Homo sapiens: one gene and its partner. The protein of the gene in region 1 interacts with the protein of each later gene in a biochemical or structural test. Each region holds a gene or a part of one and is shown in the gene's direction. Other genes may lie near its edges. The genes, in order: ATF7 and OCIAD1.

What was found.
Region 2: the proteins of ATF7 (region 1) and OCIAD1 form a complex in vitro, tested with the Homo sapiens proteins (one study listed by BioGRID).

Annotation. Positions count from the first base shown.
Region 1 is NC_000012.12:53,508,526-53,519,752, reverse strand, and holds the end of ATF7 (cyclic AMP-dependent transcription factor ATF-7), read left to right. Parts: intron 1-2,144; exon of another isoform or gene 2,145-2,398; coding exon 2,399-2,616; 3' UTR 2,617-7,699; downstream 7,700-11,227. UniProt on the Homo sapiens protein: Stress-responsive chromatin regulator that plays a role in various biological processes including innate immunological memory, adipocyte differentiation or telomerase regulation.
Region 2 is NC_000004.12:48,832,691-48,844,088, forward strand, and holds part of OCIAD1 (OCIA domain-containing protein 1), read left to right. Parts: intron 1-710; coding exon 711-791; intron 792-9,945; coding exon 9,946-9,999; intron 10,000-11,398. UniProt on the Homo sapiens protein: Maintains stem cell potency. Increases STAT3 phosphorylation and controls ERK phosphorylation. May act as a scaffold, increasing STAT3 recruitment onto endosomes. Involved in integrin-mediated cancer cell adhesion and colony formation in ovarian cancer.

The DNA of each region.
Region 1 (11,227 bases):
AAAAACAAATCCTGTTGATGGGCTAAAGAGGATAAGGACTGTTTATCAGTATATAATCTATATACGGTCAGTTTTCCACTTAGTCCCTGCAAGAACTCTGATACATAGTTAATCCATTAAACTACTTATTCTTTTTTTTTCTCCTGCCTCAGCCTCCCGAGTAGCTGGGACTACAGGCGGGCACCACCACGCCCAGCTCATTTTTGTATTTTTAGTAGAGACGGGGTTTCACCATGTTCCCCAGGCTAGTCTCCAATTCTTGGCTTCATGTGATCTGCCCACCTCTGTCTCCCAAAGTGCTAGGATTACAGGTGTGAGCCACCGCACCCGGCCTTACATATTCATTATAGCAAAGATGTATTTAGTTCCTGCTGTGTGGTATAGATATTATGTAAGTACCTGACACATGATGAATAAGACACTGTCACTACCTCTGAGAGAATCATAGGGTCATATAAACCTGTGGATGAGGTAAGGATAGATATCCCAGTTAAAAAGCCCCTAAACTGGGAGCTTCCTAAGGATAGGGTTCCCGTTTTCTTCTCTGTGTACCCATGCCTGGTACATGGATGATGCTCAGTAAAATGTTTGATGAATATATGCTGTGAAAACACAAAGAATAAAACAGTTAATGTACTGAGGGTAACAAAGATGGCTTCACAGAGGACGCAATATTTGAATCTTTTTTTTTTTTTTTTTGAGACGGAGTCTCGCTCTGTTGCCCAGGCTGGAGTGCAGTGGCACAATCTCGGCTCACTGCAAGCTCTGCCTCCCGGGTTCACACCATTCTCCTGCCTCAGTCTCCCAAGTAGCTGGGACAACAGGCGCCCGCCACCATGCCCAGCTAATTTTTTGGTTTTTTTTTTTTTTGAGTAGAGACGGGGTTTCACCATGTTAGCCAGGGTAGTCTCGATCTCCTGACCTCCTGATCCGCCCAGCTTGGCCTCTGAAAGTGCTGGGATTACAGGCGTGAGCCACTGCGCCCGGCCATATTTGAATCTTAAAAGAAGACTCAGGCATTCATCAGGATGTCAGAAATACAACTGACTATGGAACGTTTGCCTTTTTTCCACATATTTCTGTTTAAGCAGCCATAGAGGCTATCCGATGTTTAATAAAACTCCTTGACTTGCTGAGTGTGATGACTCATACCTGTAATCCCGGCAATTTGGGAGTCTGAAGCAGGAGGATGGCTTGAGGCCAGCAGTTGAAGGCTGCTGTGAGCTGTGATTGTGCCATGGCACCTCCAGCCTGGGTGACAGAGTGAGACCCTCTAAAAAAATTTTAAAAACATTTGACTAATGAGCAACATGGAGTTACCATTGTATGTAGCTCAGGTAGTTGTGTTTAGTAGTAAAATGTTAGTGTCACTTTAGGTGGAGTGGCATAACTTATAATGTTTTATAATCATTAATGCCTAGCTAATTTTTAGTCAGGAGGGTCTTAAGATTTCTTTGTAGTTTTACATGTTAACTGAACCCGGGCCAGGGACTGGCCATTCATAATATCATTTAATTATAGCTTGATATCTATCAGACTTACCTGTGGTACAACTACATGGTAAAGGAACATTAAAAATAATGGAATAGGCCTGCCACAGTGGCTCACGCCTATAATCCCAGCACTTTGGGAGGCCAAGGCAGGCCAATCACTTGAGGTCAGGAGTTTGAGACCAGCCTAGCTAACGTGGCAAAACCCCATCTCTACTAAAAATTCAAAAATTAGCCAGGTGTGGCAGTGTGCACCTGTAGTCCCAGCTACTCGGAAGGCTGAGGCACGAGAATCACTTGAACCTGGATGGCAGAGGTTGCAATGAGCTGAGATTGCACCACTGCACTCCAGCCTGGGCAACAGAGCAAGACTCAGTCTTAGGAAAAAAAATAAATAAATAAAATAATGGAATAATTCAGTTCCTGTGAGAATTAATCAAAGAGGATGGCTAAAAAGAGATCTATTTTAAATCATCTTTAAAGAAATGAAGGCCAGGCGCAGTGGCTCATGCCTATAATCCCAGCACTTTGAGAGGCCAAGGCAGGAGGATCACTTGAGACCCTATCTCTTAAAAACAAGAAAGAATAGAAGTAATGAATAATAATAAGAGTTGGTAATGAACTATGCAAAGACCTAGAAACCAGACAGTGTAATTAACATGTTGGAGATTCATTTTATTGGAATAGATAGGTTAATTTTGGCCTAGTTCTTCCCTTCTTACAACTTCCCATTTCCTAGCCCATTTATGACTTAGAAGCCAGGATTCTGGGAAGTTTTCCCCAAAAAAAAGATGGGTTTCATTTCCCTTTTGGGCTCCTTTAGAATTATGGCAAAAGGTAGTCCTGCCTCTTTCCCCATTCTGTTTTCTAACCAATTGCTCTCTGCTCTTTGCCCTCCTTCCTGGCAGAAAGCCCCAAGGAAAGCTCAGAGCCAACGGGTTCTCCAGCCCCTGTGATTCAGCACAGCTCAGCAACAGCCCCTAGCAATGGCCTCAGTGTTCGCTCTGCAGCTGAAGCTGTGGCCACCTCGGTCCTCACTCAGATGGCCAGCCAAAGGACAGAACTGAGCATGCCGATACAATCGCATGTAATCATGACCCCACAGTCCCAGTCTGCGGGCAGATGATGCCTCCTCTGGTGGAGAGGTCCTCAGCCAGAGCTCGCCCGCCCAAGAGCCAAGAGAGATGTCATCTTATCCCCTCCCATCTGCCTTGGACATGGCAATATGGGTGGGGGGAATTGTGTGTTGTGAGTAATGGACAGATATGGGGCTTTTTAGCCATGTGGTCATGTACGTTTGACACCTGTGCTGGGGGCCTCCCAGCCCCGGAGCCTCATAGATCATCCCCCAGGGTGGGGTTTCTGATGCATCCACAGCCAAAGGCCTTTCCAGATGGTCCGAACAATCACCCCTGCCCCATGCACGTGTATCTGTCTCTTTTAACACTAACCCTTGGCACTTCTAGGTTTGGGGTTTCTCAGTTCCCTCTCTTCCCACTAAGCCGTGGCTGTTACCTTTTTGTTCCTTACCAGCATGCCACTTCCTGCCAGATAGAGGGAGGCTAGATTTGATGACATATTACCCGCTGACCCAGCCCCAGCCACCCCATGGACTCAGGACTCAGGTCTCCCATAGCTGCTTATTTACCCGTTTCCTTTTTCCTCTTCCTTAATTCTAGTTAAAACATTCACTTACGGAGAATGTAAGGTTACCTTTGATGTATGAAGTAGCAGTATTTTCCAGTTTTTCCATAAGCTTTATTCCTTCTCTCTACCTGCCACCAAAAAGAAAGAAACCCTCAAGAGTTCTAATTCTTTTTCATCTATTTGCAGAGCTATTTGGGTACCTCATTTTGTCCCTTGACTTTAGTGTAGTGGTGGGGTCTTTCCCACCACCCCACTAAGCCTTGGCAACCTCATTTTGTGGCCTTATTATTAAAGATTGCTTGGTAGTGAAAAGGGAAGGGCCCAGAATCTGACTGGCTGATTCTGTCTCCTCCCCTCCCTCCTTCTTTAGTTTAACCATCAGGGCAGACAGGAACAAAGTATTTCAAAGCTTGTTCCATCAAGTTAGGGATTAATCGATTCCTTTATGTTTTATAAGAGTTTACCGGCCAAAGCATATTGTCATCTTTGGTCATTTTTCTGCTCCTGCTTCTCTCTCTTCATTCCCCTATCAACATTACCGCCCCTGTCTCTCTTCTGTAACTACTTCAGACTCAGCCCTCCTGGAGGCTGTCATGTAGGGGACTCTCGAGTTCCTTTGTTCTACCCCATCTCTCCCCCTCACACATCTGTCTGCTTTTCTGAGCTAGAGTCTTCTGTTCACAAGTGCCCATCACCGTCTGGACTATCTTCTTTCTCTTTCACCAGGTTCCTAGCTTAGCCACTAGGTCTTCCAGGTCCTCCAGAGTTTCTTCAACCCATTTCTTCTCTCTTCTCTTTACATGCAGTGCTCCAGGATCTTGAAGCGTCATAGCCAAGATGCTGAGTGGGTTTACTTGAGTATAAGATTGAAAGGAGGGAGGAAGAGGAGAGGGAAAGTGCAGAACTGGTCCCAGCAAAGGACCCCAGGTTCTGGCCTGGGAAATTGGTGACTATTGCTCTCAACCATTCTTACTTTGAAGAGTTGGGTTGCAGAGGGAGCAATTCATCTCTCTTGTCCCTCTTCCACGTTAAGGCTTCTCATCTCCCCTTGGCTCTGAACTATGCAGTTTCTACCAGGACCATAGGAAGCAATTCAGAGCCAGAGGCCTGTGGATAGATAGGTCAGCTTTAATTGCCTTTCCGTATGAAACCCTTCCAGTTGTCCCAGAGCCACTTTCTGCCATCTGTGCAAGCCAAGAATGTCCTTCTCTCCATCTTTCCTACCTCCATCTTAAACATACATACAAAATAACTGCCAGCTTCCTTTCTTATTTTGTCTCCAAAATTGACTGTCACAGGGGAATGAGAAAATGTTCTAAGCTACAAGATTCCCGTTTCCTTAAAGTGATATCCTGTCCTAGTGAACCAGTCAGGTAACAGGTTCTGCTGCATTTGTTTTAAATTTCCCCTCCTGCTTTTCAGAGCTGGTGCTGAACAGGCCACACCCCTAAAGACAAAGGAGAGAAAACACGGTTTTCTCATCCTCTACCATCAGGTACCCAACAGGAATAGGCCCTGAAGTGATTCAGACTAGCAAATGTTATGGCAGATGGTCAGGACGCAGGTTACCACATCCAGGGACTTCACTTTTGCCTTTAAAAATTCACAGCCGTAACTTGTGCTCAGGACTTCCCCTTTAGCTGGCTGCTCCCTGGGATTTTCTCCTGCTTTAGAGTTTTGTTTCATTTTTTTATTGTCTTGATTTCCCAGTAGCAGCCTTGCCCTAAAGCTTGACTGAGTTTATGGCTCCTAAGGAGCTTTCCTAAGACTCTTGACTATTTTTCTTCCCCCTTCAGTCAAGTGTTTTTACAGTTAAGAATTAATTTGTAACTGCATACATGCCCTGCCAGTCTGTCCCTGTGTTGGGTGGCTAATTTATGTAGCGGGTCTTTTTTATTTCTTAGCCCCCATGACTAATTATCTAGTCCTAACTTCATTTTTATCAGTGGGAAGATGTGTACGGGACCTCAGTGAGGAGCACTGCCAGAACCACAGTAACAAAATGGCACTGAAATAAGGAAGCAGCAGGTCAGAACCCCCTAGATAGTTCTTGAGTTGGTTCTCAGTCTCACTAAGGAGGCAGAATAATTGCTGCCCTGAAACTTCTCTGATAGTCAAAGGTAACTTCACTTACCTTGTTATTGCTACCAGCCATGTGGTCACTCTCCCCAAATCTTTGTCTTCCAGATCCATCTGGACCAGAACCAAACATCATGGAAGGTGTCACTTGGCCCTTCCTAAAGTCCATGGCGTTTCTAGAGGCCTAAGGGAGGACACTTTCAGAAAGGAGCTGAGTGTATGGTGGGTGTCCTGAATTCGTTCATGTGAATACAGGACTCAGGCTTCCCACCCCACTCCAATGTGAGTGCTCGATACACAAGCACTCTAGCTAGCTGCCACGTACCCAAGGCCACAGAGGGAGGGGACAGAACCAGGTCTTCTGGTCTGCTCACTTTCTGCCCCATTCCCCTAACAGAAAGTTTGCTTAGAGTTGAAAAGTCTAAGAAAGCCTCCCACAATACTAGAGAGGCCAACAAAAAAAAAGTCATGCCCCCTTTACTTACTCTTTTGCTGCTGGTTATGCATCTCAAATCTGACTTCCTTAGCCTTCACCTCCCTCCTTGGCCCTAAGCATTAGACCATGTACTCTAAGTAGTGGTTAAAGAGGGACTGAGCAAACTGAACCTCCTCTCGCTCACTTCTCTATCCCTGTTCTGTTGGTTTTGGCTCCTTTCTTGATTCACTGCCCTCTAGCACCACCCATCCTGGTAGATGGAGTGCTTAACCCCAACCGTGCCCTATGTACAGCCTGAACCACCAAACAGACACCAAAAAAATTCTTCCTGTGGTTTCTGGGGCTCCCCTGCTCCACACTGAGAGGCTCCTTAAAGGTGCTAGCCCCTGATACAGCTATCCCCGCCAGTTTTCTCCTTTTTTCATAACTTCCTTCCCATCCCCAAATCATTAATTTTTCATTAATATTGTACATTATATACACAGGAAGGAAATACATTATTTTTTTTAAATTTCATAACCAGCCTGTTTAGATTCCAGTCTTCCTAGCTATATCACATATGCCTTGTTGATATGCTCTTTCTGCTTTCTTTAGACTTAATGTTTGACGGGGGTGGGGGTGTCTGGAAGAACAGGAAAGGTGGGGATCCTAAGGCAGATTAAAGGACTCCCTCCACCCCACTACAGCCTCCCATAACTCTAGTCATCCCTCTCATAGTACAGGACTGATTTCTCTGTGTCTGTTTGTACACACAAATGTGCATACAGACATAAATTCCCCCACCCCATACCAAGGTGGTTACCTAGCAGGAATGAGCGTAGGTGGCTGCTGGCCACCATTACCACCGTCTGCATCAGCTGTGTTGTCTCTCTTTGGGGTAAAGTCCTACCCCAGAATGAGAAAAGGCTGGGGAGAGTAGGGCAGGTTAAAGGAGCTTATGTCCTCTGTAGATGTAGGTTTGTATCATAGCTACTAGGGTTTATTTTTTTAATGGGGGGCTAATAGCACAGAGTTATCTCACCAGCAGTAGCTACTGGTGAGTGATGTTTTAGCTGTAAGAAGTGGCTATGAGCAATAGTTTCACTGACTTTACCTTAGGGCAGTGCCACAGTAATCTGGGAACTTGTTAGAAATACACATTCTCAGGCCCCATCCCAGACTTATTGAATCACAGACTCTGGGGGCAGGGTTTAAAAGCACTCCAAGTGATTCTAATGCACACTAAAGGTTGAGAACCATTTCTTAGGGATAAGCTGGGAAATTTTTACAGGTGTGGAGGATATTTCAAATACATCTTTTGCCTTTGCACTAACATGCTTTCATTTCTTTCAGTCTCTTCCTCCATTCCCTTTAAAGTCTTCCCCATCATATCACTGATCTCAAAAGCTAGATTTGTCTTCATTTTAGTCGTATCCCTAAAACCATGCATTGGTCTGGACAGGAGTTGTCCCATATTCCCTTGCAGACTGGTCACTCCATGTTCTCTGTTACAGTAAGGACCAGCCAAGCTTCAGCTGTCCCATTCCTCCCCCTACAACACACACACCTTTCAGGCAGGGAGGAGATGAGCTTCCAGCCCCAAGAGTGGAGGCTGCCACATCCTAACATAGTATCTATTGAAAAGGAAGCAGTGTGTATCTATGATTATATCTCTGTTCATCTATATATTTTTGACATGTAGCAACACCTCTCCATCTTATCAAGGAACTCAACTCGGTCTGGGTCTCCCCAGTGCCCAGTGGTGGCCTTTGACAGGTAGGAGGATGCAGTGCTGCAGGCTATTTTGTTTTTTGTTACAAAACTGTCTTTTCCCTTTTCCCCTCCACCTGATTCAGCATGATCCCTGTGAGCTGGTTCTCACAATCTCCTGGGACTGGGCTGAGGCAGGGGCTTCGCTCTATTCTCCCTAACCATACTGTCTTCCTTTCCCCCTTGCCACTTAGCAGTTATCCCCCCAGCTATGCCTTCTCCCTCCCTCCCTTGCCCTGGCATATATTGTGCCTTATTTATGCTGCAAATATAACATTAAACTATCAAGTGAACCACTGTTATGTCTGATGCTTCACTCCTCTATCCACAGCCCCCATTGTCCCCTTTTCTGGGAGGTCACTGGCCTTTCATGTCTGTCATCTTCATCACTCCCCCATTTCTTAGGACAGAAGGAACAGGGATTTTTGTCTCTAGTTTTTATACATGGGAGATACAGCCTAGAGAAAGTGGATGATTTCTATAAATTACAAAGTATGACAGAAGGCCCAGGGCAGAGCTCCTGTGGACTGCCTTGGAGACAAGGGCCCTTGGCATCCTGGCAGCAAGTACTCACAGGAAACTTAGTATGTGCTTTATGTGGATGGCGGGTGGGAGAGTTGCTGATGGCAAATGGCCTTTTACTTTTCAGTGTTTTGTTGCCAACCCCCACCCAACCATTAAAAAGTGGCTGTTGTGACCAGGGAGCACACACACAGACAAAGACGGAAAGTATAGCTTTCTATGGTAAGGAGGAGGCTGGTCTGGAAATGAGGGGTAGAGTTTACTTAGAAGCAGGTAAGAAAACCGGGCATGGTGGCTCATGCCTGTAATCCCAGCACTTTGGGAGGCTGAGGCGGGTTGATCACCTGAGGTCAGGAGTTTGAGACCAGCCTGGCCAACATGGAGAAACCCCGTCTCTACTAAAAATACAAAAATTAGCCAGGTGTTGGTGGCGGGCGCCTGTAATCCCAGCTACTCAGGAGGCTGAGGCAGGAGAATCACTTGAACCTGGGAGGCAGAGGTTGCAGTAAGCTAAGATCGTGCCGTTGCACTCCAGCCTGGGCAACAAGAGTGAAACTCCATCTCAAAAAAAGCAGGTAAGAGTTCACAAGAAAAACAGGTAATGCTCAGAGACTGTGGGAATCAGGAAGAGGTGTAGGGAAATCACAGATAATTTATTGCATCTGTATATTCCTTTATAAATAACATCACAAATGAGAACAATGAGCCAGGCTGAAGAATTTGACAAAAGAGATAGCAGGTGTCTCTGGAGTTTCCCAGTAGGAGAGAAATGACTTAAGAAGCTATCTGTGGCTGGTGTTTGGTAGACACTTGACACAAATAGCCTGTGCCTCCTGAGGAGAGCAGGAAAGGCAGTGGTGGTCTTCACTGTGTTGTGGCCAGGAGCACATGGGTGTCCAGAGAAGGGTAAGAAAGGAAATTGCTGAAAGCCAAATACCAAAGCCCAGATTATGAGGTTTTGGAGGTTCCCACCACTGAAGCTGCACTCTGAAAACTGGGCAGTTTACAAAATTAGAGGAATCAACCCATTCCAACTTCAAAGGAGACCAGTTACCTCCATCCTGGACACAGGAAGCCAGCTAAACCAGCCTCTTTCTGAATGCAGCTCAGCCCAGAGCCACTTGTAATTGATGTTTAGAGAAATACTAGAAGCAGCAGGATGGTAAACATGGAATGGCTGCCCTATGCTACGTGGAATGGTAGATTGCTTTACTGTTCACCTAGTGATAACAGGAGTAGTCACTTCATTTTATTGATGATAAATTGAGGTTTAGCCAAGTCACACAGTGAAGTGCAAGAGCTAGGATTACAACTGAGTTCTGTCTGGCCCAGAACCAGCTCTGCAGTGTCCCATCCACCCTCACACCGCTGCTCCTCTGGACCTCTGTCACACAGGAGCAGACAAGGATCATTCTGGGATGCAGCAGCTACTGCCCACAGAAAAGCCATCTCCCCGTGGCCTTGATACTCCCTTTTAAGAAGTGGTAAACTGGCCGGGTGCAATGGCTCATGCCTGTAATCCCAAAACTTTGGGAGTCCCAGGCGGGCGGATCACCTGAGGTCGGGAGTTCAAGACCAGCCTGACCAACATGGAGAAACCCCATCTCTACTAAAAATACAAAACTAGCCAGGCGCGGTGGTGCATGCCTGTAATCCCAGCTACTCGGGAGGTTGAGGCAGGAGAATCACTTGAACCTGGGAGGCAGATGTTGTGGTGAGCCGAGATCAAGCCATTGCACTCCAGCCTGGGCAACAAGAGCAAAACTCCGTCTCAAAAAAAAAAAAAAGATAAAACTACAAGATACCATGATGATGAATGTCAGGTTTTGTGGTTGGGACCAACCATGAGACAAAGCTTACGAAAAGGTTTACCCTGGCTTAGTCCGCATTAACAGAAATATGGTATCTGGAGCATCCAGATCCAAACCTGCTCTAATCTACGTGTCTAAAGGATAAGTTGGTTCCTAGATGCCTTGCCTTAAAGAGTGGGGTGCTTCCCCTTGAGCAAAAAAGACTATGGAGTGGGCCAGGTGCGGTGGCTCACGCCTGTAATCCCAACACTTTGGGATGCCAAGGTGGGTGGATTGCTTGAGGTCAGGAGTTCAAGACCAGCCTGGCCAACATGGTGAAACCCCATCTCTACTAAAAATACAAAAATTAGCCGGGCATAGTGGTGTGTGCCTGTAATCCCAGCTACTTGGGAGGCTGAGGCAGGAGAATCGCCTGAACCCGGGAGGCAGAGGGGTTGCGGTGAGCCGAGATCGCACCACTGCACTCCAGCCTGGGTGACAGAGCCAGACTCCATCGTAAAAAAAAAAAAAAAAAAGCTGGAGTGTAAGAATGAACTCTCTCTTCAAAAATATGAAGAGCTTTTACACATGAAAGAGATGAGATGTTCTGTTGAGACTTAATGGAGCAAACTAAGACCCCGAGTAGAAGTCACAGGAAGCCCAAAGCCCCCTCGGCACAAGGATAAATATGTCCGAAGACTGTCTGAGGAGATGGTAAGTTCCCCGACTGGGGCACATGAGGCAATCACAGCTAACGTTTTGAGGATACCTGTTCTATGCAAGCTGTTTTATTGAATGGATTACAAAAAGTATGTTAAGTAATGCACACCCTAGGAAGGCGTTCCTTGTAAAATGGGCCCATGTTTCAGGTGAGGAAACTGAAGCTCAGAGCGGGAGACAGCTTGCTCAAGCAGAGGCCAAGGCCTTTACGTCATGGCTCTTCCTCAGCACAAGCTAGAGACCCACACTGGTGGGGATGCTCCAAAAGGGACTCGAGGATTAGAAGGAACCTGCACCATATGGCTTTGAAGGCCTCTCCCTGAGGATTAGTGATTCTGATTTTTCTTAAGACAGGATTCTAGGCTACTCTATATGAGAGCCAGGGCCAGGCAGAGGCTGTGGAGACCAGAGTCGGGGTCAGAATGATAGTCCAGCCCCACAGTAGCCTGCTCCTGTCCTTCTGGGACTCCCTGGAGACTGGACCCTAGCACCTCCACTCAGCCTCACCCTCCTCACTTCCTCTGCAGAGGTCTATTCTAGGAAAAGGAAATGGCCGGAGCTGGCAATGAGGAGCTGTGACCACAGGGTGGCAGCAGTGCTTCAGCTGTGGAGAGTGACTATAGGAAGGGCGATGAGGCAGGTCGGAAGCAGTGCTCTCTAGTGAGGATGGGGGTCTGTCTGCAAAGATTGGAAGCCACACTCATTCAGTGGGCTCCAAAATCCTGTAGCCTCCCTCTATATCTTAATAATTTTTTTTTTTTGAGACAGAGTTTCTCTTTTTGCCAAGGCTGGAG
Region 2 (11,398 bases), on another chromosome or scaffold:
CTATTAAGTATTTATAATTAGAAGCACTTCCTATGTAAAGGAATTTTCACTGCCTTGAGTAACAGTGGCAGGTGGGCTGGCTTCATGGGCATGTGCAGACAGCGCCCCATACTTGGTTTCATGTTCTAGTCTTGTTATCTTGAAATTCATAATCATTTGGATAAGGAGTCCCACGTTTTTATTTTGCACTGGGCCCAGCACATTAGGTAGCCAGTCCTGACTAGCAGATAGTAGCATTAATTCTATTTGAAGTCAAAGTTTGTTGAAAGTGTATAAGTGGCCTGGCTCGGTGGCTCATGCCTGTAATCCCAGCACTTTGGGAGGCTGAGATGGGTGGAACACCTGAGGTCAGGAGTTCGAGACTAGCCTGGCTAACATGGTGAAACCCCGTATCTACTAAAATACAAAAAATTAGCCTGGCGTGGTGATGGGTGCCTGTAATCCCAGCTACTCGGAAGGCTGAGGCAGGAGAATCGCTTGAACCCCGGGAGGTGGAGGTTGCAGTGAGCCGAGATCGCGCCATTGCACTCCAGCCTGGGCAACAAGAGTGAAACACTGTCTCAAAAAACAAAAAAAGTGCATAAGCCAGTTGTTTTATTATTTGAGTTTAAAAAATGGGTGCCTCTTGTTAATGTTTAGGCTAAGATAATTTTTCAGACCTAGTTTTATTATGGATAATTTAATGTTTTCTGATTTTCCCTGGTAAAAAGACATAGGGCCTGATTACATTCCAACAGAGGAAGAAAGGAGAGTCTTCGCAGAATGCAATGATGAAAGCTTCTGGTTCAGATGTGAGTTCAATTTTCTAATTAATATAATTTGATCCAAAATTTGTACCTGAAATTTTGACTTGAATTTGAACCTGAAATTATAATAACTCCGTATAGAACAAATTGGCAAACTTTTTGCATAGTGTGGTTGTTGTTAAAAGAGATTAAGGAGATAAAGGAATTGCACACATTTTAAAGTAATTATTTCCAGATTTTTAACAAAACCATGAGGTAATTTTGTTGATAATAGTAATAGTTAGCATTTACTGTGTGTACATAGATTATATAAAAACAACCCAATAAGGTTGATAACTATTATTACCCTCACTTTACAGGTGAAGGAATTGAGGTTTAGAGATGTTAAATGGCAACACTTAGTGTTACACAGGTGATAAATTACGATGTTTGGAGTTGAAAACAGGTCTGTCTGAAACAGATTTTACTCTTAATGCTTTTAACCATTATATAATAGCAGATTAGTTCCCATTTTATCATTGTGAAATGTTGTTATACTACCAGCTCTTGATTTCTGATTAAAGAAATATATATATATTTGTGTATATATATATATCAAGATTGTATTTTTTAAATACAGAGATTGTTGGAAGCAGTATACAAAATATACTCTCACTATTTAACAAAGAATTGGTATTGCTTTACTTGGAAACTGTAGTCCTTTCAGGTAAAAAGGAGGATGAATTTTTTTTTGTTTTTGTTTTTGTTTTTTTGAGATGGAGCTTCGCTCTTGTTGCCCAGGCTGGAGTACAATGGTGTGATCTCAGCTCACTGCAACTTCTGCCTCCTGGGTTCAAGCGATTCTCCTGCCTCAGCCTCCTGAGTAGCTGGGATTACAGGCATGTGCAACCATGCCCAGCAAATTTTTCTATTTCTAGTAGAAGCGGGATTTCACCATGTTGGCCAGGCTGGTCTTGAACTCCTGACCTTAGGTGATCTGCCTTGGCCTCCCAAAGTGCTGGGATTATAGGCGTGAGCCACCATGCCTGGCAAATTTTTTTTTAAAAAAGGCAACTTGGCACGGTGCCTCATGGCTATAATTGCAGCACTTTGGGAGGCTGAGGCAGGAGGATTGCTTGAGCCCAGAAGTTCAAGACCAGCGTGGGCAACATAGAGGGGCCTTGTCTCTACCAAAAATGAAAGAAATTAGCTGGGTGTGGTGATACGTAGCTGTAATCGCAACCATTTGGGAGGCTGAGGCTGAGGTAGGAGGATCCCTTGAGCTGGGTACATAGAGGCTGCTGCAGTGAGCTATGATCACATCACTGCATTCCAGCCTGGGTGACAGAGCCAGACCCTGTCTCAAAGAAAAGAAAAAAAGGGCAACTTAAGCCATTAAGGAGGATGTATGTTTTCATCAGTCAGCCTGATATGTATGCTTAAAATGTGCAAGGTACCTGTTGGGAAGATAAGTTTTATGAAAGACAGACTTTGTCCTGAATTAATTTTCTTTTTTGTTTGTTTGTTTTTGTTTTTGAGACGGAGTCTCACTCTCTTCCCCAGGCTGGAGTGCAGTGGTGTGATCTCTGCTCACGTCAACATCCTTCTCCTGGGTTCAAGTGATTCTCCTGCCACAGTGTCCTGAGTATCTGGGACTACAGGCGTGCGCCACCATGCCCGGCTAATTTTTGTATTTTCAGTAGAGACTGGGTTTCACTATGTTGGCCAGGCTGATCTCGAACTCCTGACCTCAGTTGATTCACCTGCCTTGGCCTCCGAAAGTGCTGGGATTACAGGTGTGAGCCACTGCGCCTGGCCCTGAAGTAGTTTTATATGTGGTGAGACAAAGCTAATACATGAAACACTTAGAGATTAAGTGTGTAACTGCAGAAGACTTTTTAAAGAGATAAATTAATTAGAATTGACTTACTGAAATTGAAAAATTTGAATAACTTTTGAGATTTTAAAACTCAAAATTTTCTCAAAATTTTACCAAATTTCAATTTGGTAAAAACTGAAGCCTCTTACAATTTTACAGTTGTGTTTTTCTGTAACATAAGGTGGAATACCTGAGTTGGAAAAAGACCTTTATTTGTTAAGCAAACAATACTTTAACAACTTTATAATAGTACTGTAGGCCAGGTATGGTGGCTCACACCTGTAATCCCAGCACCTTGGTTTTGTTTTGTTTTTTATTTTTGTAGATACTAGGTTTTGCCATGTTGCCCAGGCTAATCTTGAACCCCTGAGTTCAAGCGATCTGCCTGCCTTGGCCTCCCCAAATGGTGGAATTTCAAGCATGAGCCACTGAACCTGGCCCCAGCACATTGGGTGGTTGAGGCAGGAGGATCGCCTGAGACCAGGAGTTTGAGACCAGCCTTGGCAACATAGTGAGACCCTGTCCCTAATCCCCCAACAACAACAACAAAAGAATTAATAGTTAATAAGTAGATAAGTGAAGAGGAAAGGTGGAGTAGCATTTGGAAGAAAGGAGTAGTGAACAAAGGCAGAGTTTGCAATAACTTCATCTCTGCTGGAGCGGTGAGCCTGAATTGATTGGAACAGAGGTCTTTCATTGAGGATAGAACGTAAAACATAGTAATGAGTTAAAGGTTTGATCCATTATATCGTTTAGGTTCTTGAGCAGAGGGGGGTGATATGTAAGGTTTTTTTTAAGGAAGGTTAGTTAACAGTGTGCAAGATGGGTAGAAGGGTGAGAAGTTGTACTTGGTAAAATCTGTTTTGAGCTTTTGGCAGTAACTTAGGCATATATATGTAGTCAACGATGAGATATAGTTGATTAGTGTGTCATTTGGACTGGAAAAGATGAGCTGGCAACGAAAGACTTTTTAAAGGACAAATAAAAGGATTTTTTAAAAAGTTCGACTAAGGGGGAATGAAGGAATGGTAAGAGGGAGGTAATAGCTTTAAGATAACCAGCTTAGGAGACTCAATGATACCTCTGAATAAAAGGTTCATTTAGAAGGAGTTCTTGTTTGAAGATGAGTTTAGTTCAGACGTTTTGAGTTCATGGTGCAACATTCGATTGTCGAAGATTTCTAAGCAACTACAGATAGAAACAAAAGCATACATGAAAAATTAGTTTATTGTGGAGTTGTGTTGGTGAATTCGCCAATAAATTAAGTGTAGAGATAAAAGCATAAAACTGATAATAGTTTCTGCCCTGTGATTAATACTTAGGATTGATAGAATAAAGGATAAAGTTTGGATAGTACCCATGGATAAGGGAACAAGTGATAGTGAAAGAATCAACAAAGACCAAGAGCAGTTAGGAAGATAGAGGAGCTCTGATAGAATCTTTGTCATTTTATCCACCAATATTCAGAGACTTGCAGGTATTTCAAGCTAGAAAGAACCTGAATAAGAATTAGGTGATGATGTCCATTTTAAATTTATGATGACTATGCATCTAAAACAGTTATTCTCAACTGGGAGCAGAATAACTGGAACGAGTTGAGAATAATTGTTATAGATGCATAGTCATCATAAAGTAAGGGCTTCTATAAAATTTTCATGGCTCATTAGAATGGGAATAATTTCTTTCTTTTTTTTTGAGACGGAGTCTCGCTCTATCCCCCAGGCTGGAGTACGGTGGTGCAATCTTGGCTCACTGCAAGCTCCGCCTCCTGGGTTCATACCATTCTCCTGCCTCAGCCTCCCGAGTAGCTGGGATTACAGGCGCCTGCCACCATACCTGGCTATTTTTTTTTGTATTTTTACTAGAGATGGGGTTTCACCGTGTTAACCAGGATGGTCTCCATCTCCTGACCTTGTGATCCACCTGCCTCGGCCTCCCAAAGTGCTGGGATTACAGACGTAAGCCATCGTTTTTTTTTTTTTGTTTTTTTTTCTTTTTTCGGTGTTCTTTTTTTTGTGACTGGGTTTCACTCTTGTTGCCCAGGCTGGAATGCAATGGCACAGTCTTGGCTCACTGCAACCCCTGCCTCCTGGGTTCAAGCAATTCTCCTGCCTCAGCTTCCCAAGTAGCTGGGCTTATAGGCGCCTGCCACCATGCTCAGCTAATTTTTGTATTTTTGGTAGAGAAGGAGTTTCACCATGTTGGCCAGGCTGGTCTCGAGCTCCTGACCTTGTGATCTGCCCACCTCGGCCTCACAAAGTTCTGGGATTACAAGCATGAGCCACTGTGCCTGGCCAGAATGGGAAGAATTTCTTAGAGAACTTGGCTGTATACTCCAGCAACAGTTCTTTTTTTTTTTTTTTTTTTTAAATCTTTGAAGATTATATAGAGTAGATAGGATAAAATGATCTATTTTTAAGTCTTGATGACACAGGATTAAGAAAAAGGCAAGTGTGATAGAGGGGATTTGGGATTATTGTAGTGTTGGGCTAACGGTTAAATAGATGCTAAGGTGTCCAGATTTATTTCTGGCTGATAAATGTATGCTGCTGCAGGTGTTTAACAATCTAAATAGCTGTGACAGGTTTATGCCAAAAGTACATTAAAGGGTAGTGAACAATGTCAGGATGCCCGTGTATACCAGACTCTTAATAGTGGGACATGTGGTATATGAACAGTACAAAGCTAAGTGATTTCTGTGCATTAAAACAGATAAATCACAGGTTGAAAAGACAAAAAGCGGCTGGGCTTGGTGGCTCACACCTGTAATCCCAGCACTTTGGGAGGCTGAGGCAGGCAGATCACCTGAGGTCAGGAGTTCGAGACCAGCCTGACCTATATGGTGAAACCCCGTCTCTACTAAGAATACAAAAATTAGCTGAGCATGGTGGCAGGTGCCTGTAATTCCAGCTACTCGAGAGGCTGAGACAGGAGAATCGCTTGAACCCGGGAGGCAGAGGTTGCAGCAAGCCAAGATCGTGCCACTGCACTCCAGCCTGGGCGACAGAGCGAGACTCCATCTCAAAAAAAAAAAAAAAGACAAAAAGCATGTGATAAGGACAGGCTGAAAGACAGCTTGTTAATTTTATACCATATCTACATTACTGAGAAATTACAGCAGCCAAAAAATTACTGTATTAATAGGTAGCATTTCACTCTCAAAACAGATAACCAAGGTGTTGTTGCATATTATAGCATCAAACATTGAAATGTAGAAGCTTGGTTGTAACCAGGTGATAGGAAGTTCAACGTATAATTATCAGAAGGATGATAATCATACATAGGAAATTTTGTACTTTAACATTTGTACTTTCGAATTAGATAGTCTATGCTGTATGTGACATTTATGTAAACAAATAATGGCATCTGTTACTTTGGAGAGTATCACCTTGGATTAGAAAAAGGTGATAAAAGCATTTACGAATTTATAAAAAAGCACTTACTAAGGTAATTTTTTATACATTTTTTAGGTCTGTTAAAATACTTATCCTCTTCTAAAATTAGACTTGTTGATCTAGGGACCATTCTCTTTCCTTAAGATAACTATGTTTCTATACTGACCTACATTCCATTAATCTGAAATATAACTATGAAGGCATCTTATTTCTAGGTGCTTAAAATCGTGACCCTATGCACTGACCTAAAATCACTATGTCTGTGCCCAAACACACAGGTAGTGAAGACCCTGTGCATATAGGGTCAGTTTATTGCATATTCATGTTAAAATAGTTCTCAAACTCCAGAATTACTAAAAAGATGTATCAGTTCATATTTGTATCAGCTGGAGTCTATGAATAATATTTCATATATGTGTACTACTAGTTTTCAAATGATACAGTATAAGAGTGATAAGAGTATGGGCCAGGCATGGTGGCTCACACCTGTAATCCCAGCATTTTGAGAGGCCGAGGTGGGTGGATCACTTGAGGTCAAGAGTTCAAGACCAGCCTGGCTAACATGGTGAAACCCTGTCTCTACTAAAAATACAAAAATTAGCCAGGTGTGGTGGCACATGCCTGTAGTCCCAGCTTCTTGGGAGGCTGAGGCAGGAGAATGGCTTGAACTCGGGAGGCAGAGGTTGCATTGAGTCAGGATTGTGACATTGCACTCCAGCCTGGGTGACAAAGCGAGACTTCATCTCAAAAAAAAAAAAAAAAGAGTATGGACTCTGAGGCCTGATTGGCTGGATTCAAATCCCAGCTCCACACACAGTAGCTGTGAGATTTTGGACAAGTTCCTGAGGTCTGTGCTATACTTTTCTTATCTATAAAATGGGGATAACTGCCTAGCTCATGAAATTATTATAGGGATTAATGCAATTTAATTAAGTGTTGGCTATCTTTATTAAATAGCTATTAGTGTTATTATGATTAATGAAATAAAAATTTTTATTGACTACAGTTAGGAATATAGAGTAGCTTTTTGTTACTGTGAGGGGAGAAGAGTTCAAATAATTGTAGGGATTCTTGTATATATTGAATATAGTTTGGGACTGTGGTAATAATGTGCACTAGGTTTTGGTCAGCAGTATTACTGATTTGCCTATAGAGACAGATTATTTAACAAAATAGATATTACATACTGTAGTGGAAAAGGCCACTGACTAGGGAGTCAGGAGACTTGGGTTCTGATCTCAGCATTACCACAAACTAACCAGCTGTGTTGCTTTGAGCAAATGACTTGTCTTTTCTGGATATTAGTGTACTCAGATTGGAATGAGGACTAGATAATCTCTGAAGCCTCTTTCAGTCTTACCATTGTCTTTTTCTGTGACATAAAGTAGAATACCTGAGTTGGAATGAGACCTTAGGTCTAATCCATTATTCCTTTATAGCATGAGAAGAAGCTATGCAAAGACATTGTGGTGAATGGCAGAACTAGTACTAGAATCTCCTCGAACAGACTATTACTCTGCATTAAATGGGGAAAGCATTATCCATTGTAGAAATGGCCAGCTAACTCATTGCCTTTTATTCTTATATGATTCTTCAGTGCTTCATGTTGCAATCCTTGAGTCAAGCTGGAGAAAAATGATTGCAAATTGTACTGGTGCTGTAATTAAAAGGGATTTGTCCTTTGCAAAACCTTAAATGATAAATGATAATGCATGAAGGCATTCTAACTAGCCAACATTAAAGAAACCATATTTCCAGCAAAGGTAAAATCTGTTAGTAAGTAGGATAGCATGAATTCAGACCTTAGCGTTTGTGCAATTTGTGTGTGATGGCAAAGTTAATGCCCTATTCCAAAGTGATGGATTTTAATCATGAAATCTGTAATAATTCAAATGTCTTAATTACTTTGGTTCTTAAATTGTCCATATATGGTTTAGACCAGAGTTGAACAAACTAGCCCATGGACCAAATCTGTTTTTGTATGCATGAGCTAAGAATTGTTTTTACATTTTTAAATGGTTAAGAGGCTGGGTGCAGTGGCTCACGCCTGTAATCCCAGCACTTTGGGAGGCTGAGGTGGGCTGATTACTTGAACCAAGGAGATCGAGACCAGCCTGGGCAACTTGGCGAAACCTCATCTCTACAAAAAAAAAAAAAAAAAAGAAAAAAGACAAAAAATTAGCCAGGCATGGCGGTGCATGCCTGTAGTCCCAACCACTTGGGAGGCTGAAGCAGGAGGATCATCTGAGCCGGCAGGTTGAGGCTGCAGTGAGATGAGATTGTACCACTGCATTCCAGCCTTGGTGATAGAGTGAGACTTTGTCTAAAAACATAAAATAAGATAAAATGGTTAAGAAATCAAAGGAAAAGAATATTTCATTACGTGTGAAATTACATGAAATTCATATGTTTGCATCTAAAAATAAAGTTTTGTTGGAACACAGCTACGTTCATGTGTTTTTGGATTGTCTTTCGGTGCTTTTGCTTTAAAACGGCAATTGAGTAACTGGGACAGAGATTGGCCCACAAAACCCAAAATATTTACCATCTGGCTCTTCATAGAACGTGTTTGCCAACCTCAGGTCTGGAACAGCACTGTCCAGTGTGGCAGCCAGTAGTCACATGTAGCAATTTAACTTTAAAATAACTTGCAGTGAAAGGATATAAAGCAAAATCATAAAAGGAAAGGGAGCATGGGGTGAAGTCCGGCGGAAACCAGGTCCCAAGAGTTCTCTTCCCAGGGAGTGTAAATTTCTCCAACAGCTAGTCATAACAATGTGTGAAGTTGTATCTACCCGGGGAACTCATTAGAGACTCAGTGCCCACAGTTTTTATTGGGGGCTGGTCACTTATTCACCCTCTGCCTAACAGGTACCAAAATTCCAGACTCCTAGAATGAAAGCAGATGTTTGGCATGAACTGTATTTGTACAAACAGTTTGGGCACAGTGAGCCAATTACGCATATCAATGGGGGGAACTGTTTACCAGTCAAGTACCAAGACCAAATTGATCACAGGGTTGGTCACTCAAAGACCAACTTCCATTATCATAAAAAATTCTGTTAGACAGTGCTGGTGTAAAGAACAGTGATTCATAGCTGTTTTTAAGTTATAGCCCCCTTTGAGATTATGAGTTTTGGATTTTTCACTCTCGGTTTTAGGCATATATATATATAGATGTAATATTTTCATATAGTTTAAGGAGTTCACTAGTTTAGAAGAAAGAACATAAGTGTTTAAAATATGTGCTTTTTAATTTTTGCCCCAGCCACCGTATGATTACGGTCAAATATGTTTTGTATTTTGGTTTAGATGGTATACTAGAGCTTAAAAGCTTGAGATCTGGTATCAGACAGATTTTATTAGAATCTGTAACCAACCATTCAACTAGTTGTTTGGCCTTGAGCAAATTACTTAACATCTCTAAGCTTCAGTTTCCTTATCTTTAAAAGGGTGGTAATAACATTATCTACCTTATAGAAATATGATAAAAAGTATAATAAATGAGATAATGCACATAAGGCGCTTAGCATGATGCACAGAATTTAGTCATTACTCAGTAGTGGTTCTTACTTGTAACTTGTTTCTTACCTCTCCTTCATTAACTTTTTCCCCTTCTCTTACTTCAGAAGTAATTTTGAGTCACTTTTACTGTGTTGTCTTAGTTGATGCTGTTGATGAACAGCTGGCTATTTGGAACCTAAGCCTAGATGGTTCATGAATTATATTGTTTAATATTTTGTGATGTTTTCTTAAATTTAAAATGCTCCTTTAATTTTTCCACTATGTATACAGTACAGCTTTTAAAAATGGAACAGTCTTTTTTAAAGGTCTTAGTTATGCAATATAATTCCTAGATGGTTTTACTGCTATTCATTTATCTAATGAACTTTAGACAAAATCTTTTACTTTTGTTGATGTTAACAAGGTCTTTTTCTTCCTATAGCTGTGCCTTTGGCTGCAACAAGTATGTTGATTACTCAAGGATTAATTAGTAAAGGTAAATATTTAAAATTTGAATTTATTTAGCATTTTGGATACCATGTTTGTTTTGTGGTATTTTCCAGGTCTTTAGAAAAAGTAAAGATAACAATGTATCATATTAAACACTATGTAGAAATTCATTGATGAATTTAAACGTTTTATCTCTGTGGACCCACTGGCTCAAATATCATGACTTGAGAATTTCTCCTGCACTAATAGCATCATTAACAATCTGCAAGAGCAAGAAGGTAACTAAACACCAGTATTAGCAGGGCAAACCTGGTCTAGGTGGGCCAATAGCAACATTATTGCCTAGGAGCTTGTTAGAATGCACATTCATGGGGACCAGGAGTCTGTGTTTTAACAAATTCGAAGTGATTCTTATATAATGATTTAAAGATCAGTAGCTCTCTAAACCAGCTTTGTCTGATCACCTGGGGCGGATGAGTGGCGGTGAGTTAGCATTATTTAAAAAATCAGAATCTCAGGGGTCTGGCAGGTGATCTATTTTTAACGAGCCACCGAGGAGACTTTCTTGTCCTAAAGTCTATTGGCTCAAATAGTACAGTAGTGGAATTGAGTTTAGATTGAGTATTAAATGTCTTGAGTCCTGCATTTAAAATGTAGTGGAGTAAGCAGTAGAGTTGCTTAATTCCTTTACTTCATGAACTATCTATCTGGTAATGGGAAGGTGTCCCAGAAAAGGATGGTGACCTTAGGATGGCCTGGAGGCCTATTGTTTTAATTAACTGGCTCCTTCAAAAATGTGACTTAATGATTGGAAGATTTAGCCTTTTCACATTAGGATATGATGTATGGTACTTAGTTTTGACACAATTAGTTGATAAAAGTAGTTTTGGAGGCAAATGAGAGGATTTTTGGGGTAAAAATTTATTTAAGGAACTTCTGAAGAACTTCATTACAATACAGTACCATGACAAAAATCTTAAACATAGAAGCGAGTCAAGATGTATGCACTTATATGTCCTTAAGACTAAGCTGTTTTATAGACTGAGATTGGTTCTGTATTGTGAAACAACAACAACAACAACAACAAAACAAAAAAAACCCCACTTGAATTACATTCTTTGTAGGAAAAACTGGCACAGGGATGAAATTACAGTGTTTATTATTGTTCTGCTTCTTTTATCTATTTTAATCCAGTGTGTCATTTAATAATGATTGGAGCTAGGTATGCAGAAGGTTACACAAAAGAATTTAATAGCTGCTAGTAGTTCACTGGAGGAAACAAATGGATGTGAACATATGTTGAAGCAAATAGAAAATTTAATTACATACTTAATAAGCTACTAAATTGTATAGTAGAGACTCTAAGAGTTGTAGGTGTTCAAAGAAGAAAGATCTTTGTAGGGCTGTTGTAATCAAGGAAAGTTTCTTGAAAGAAGTGGGTTTTG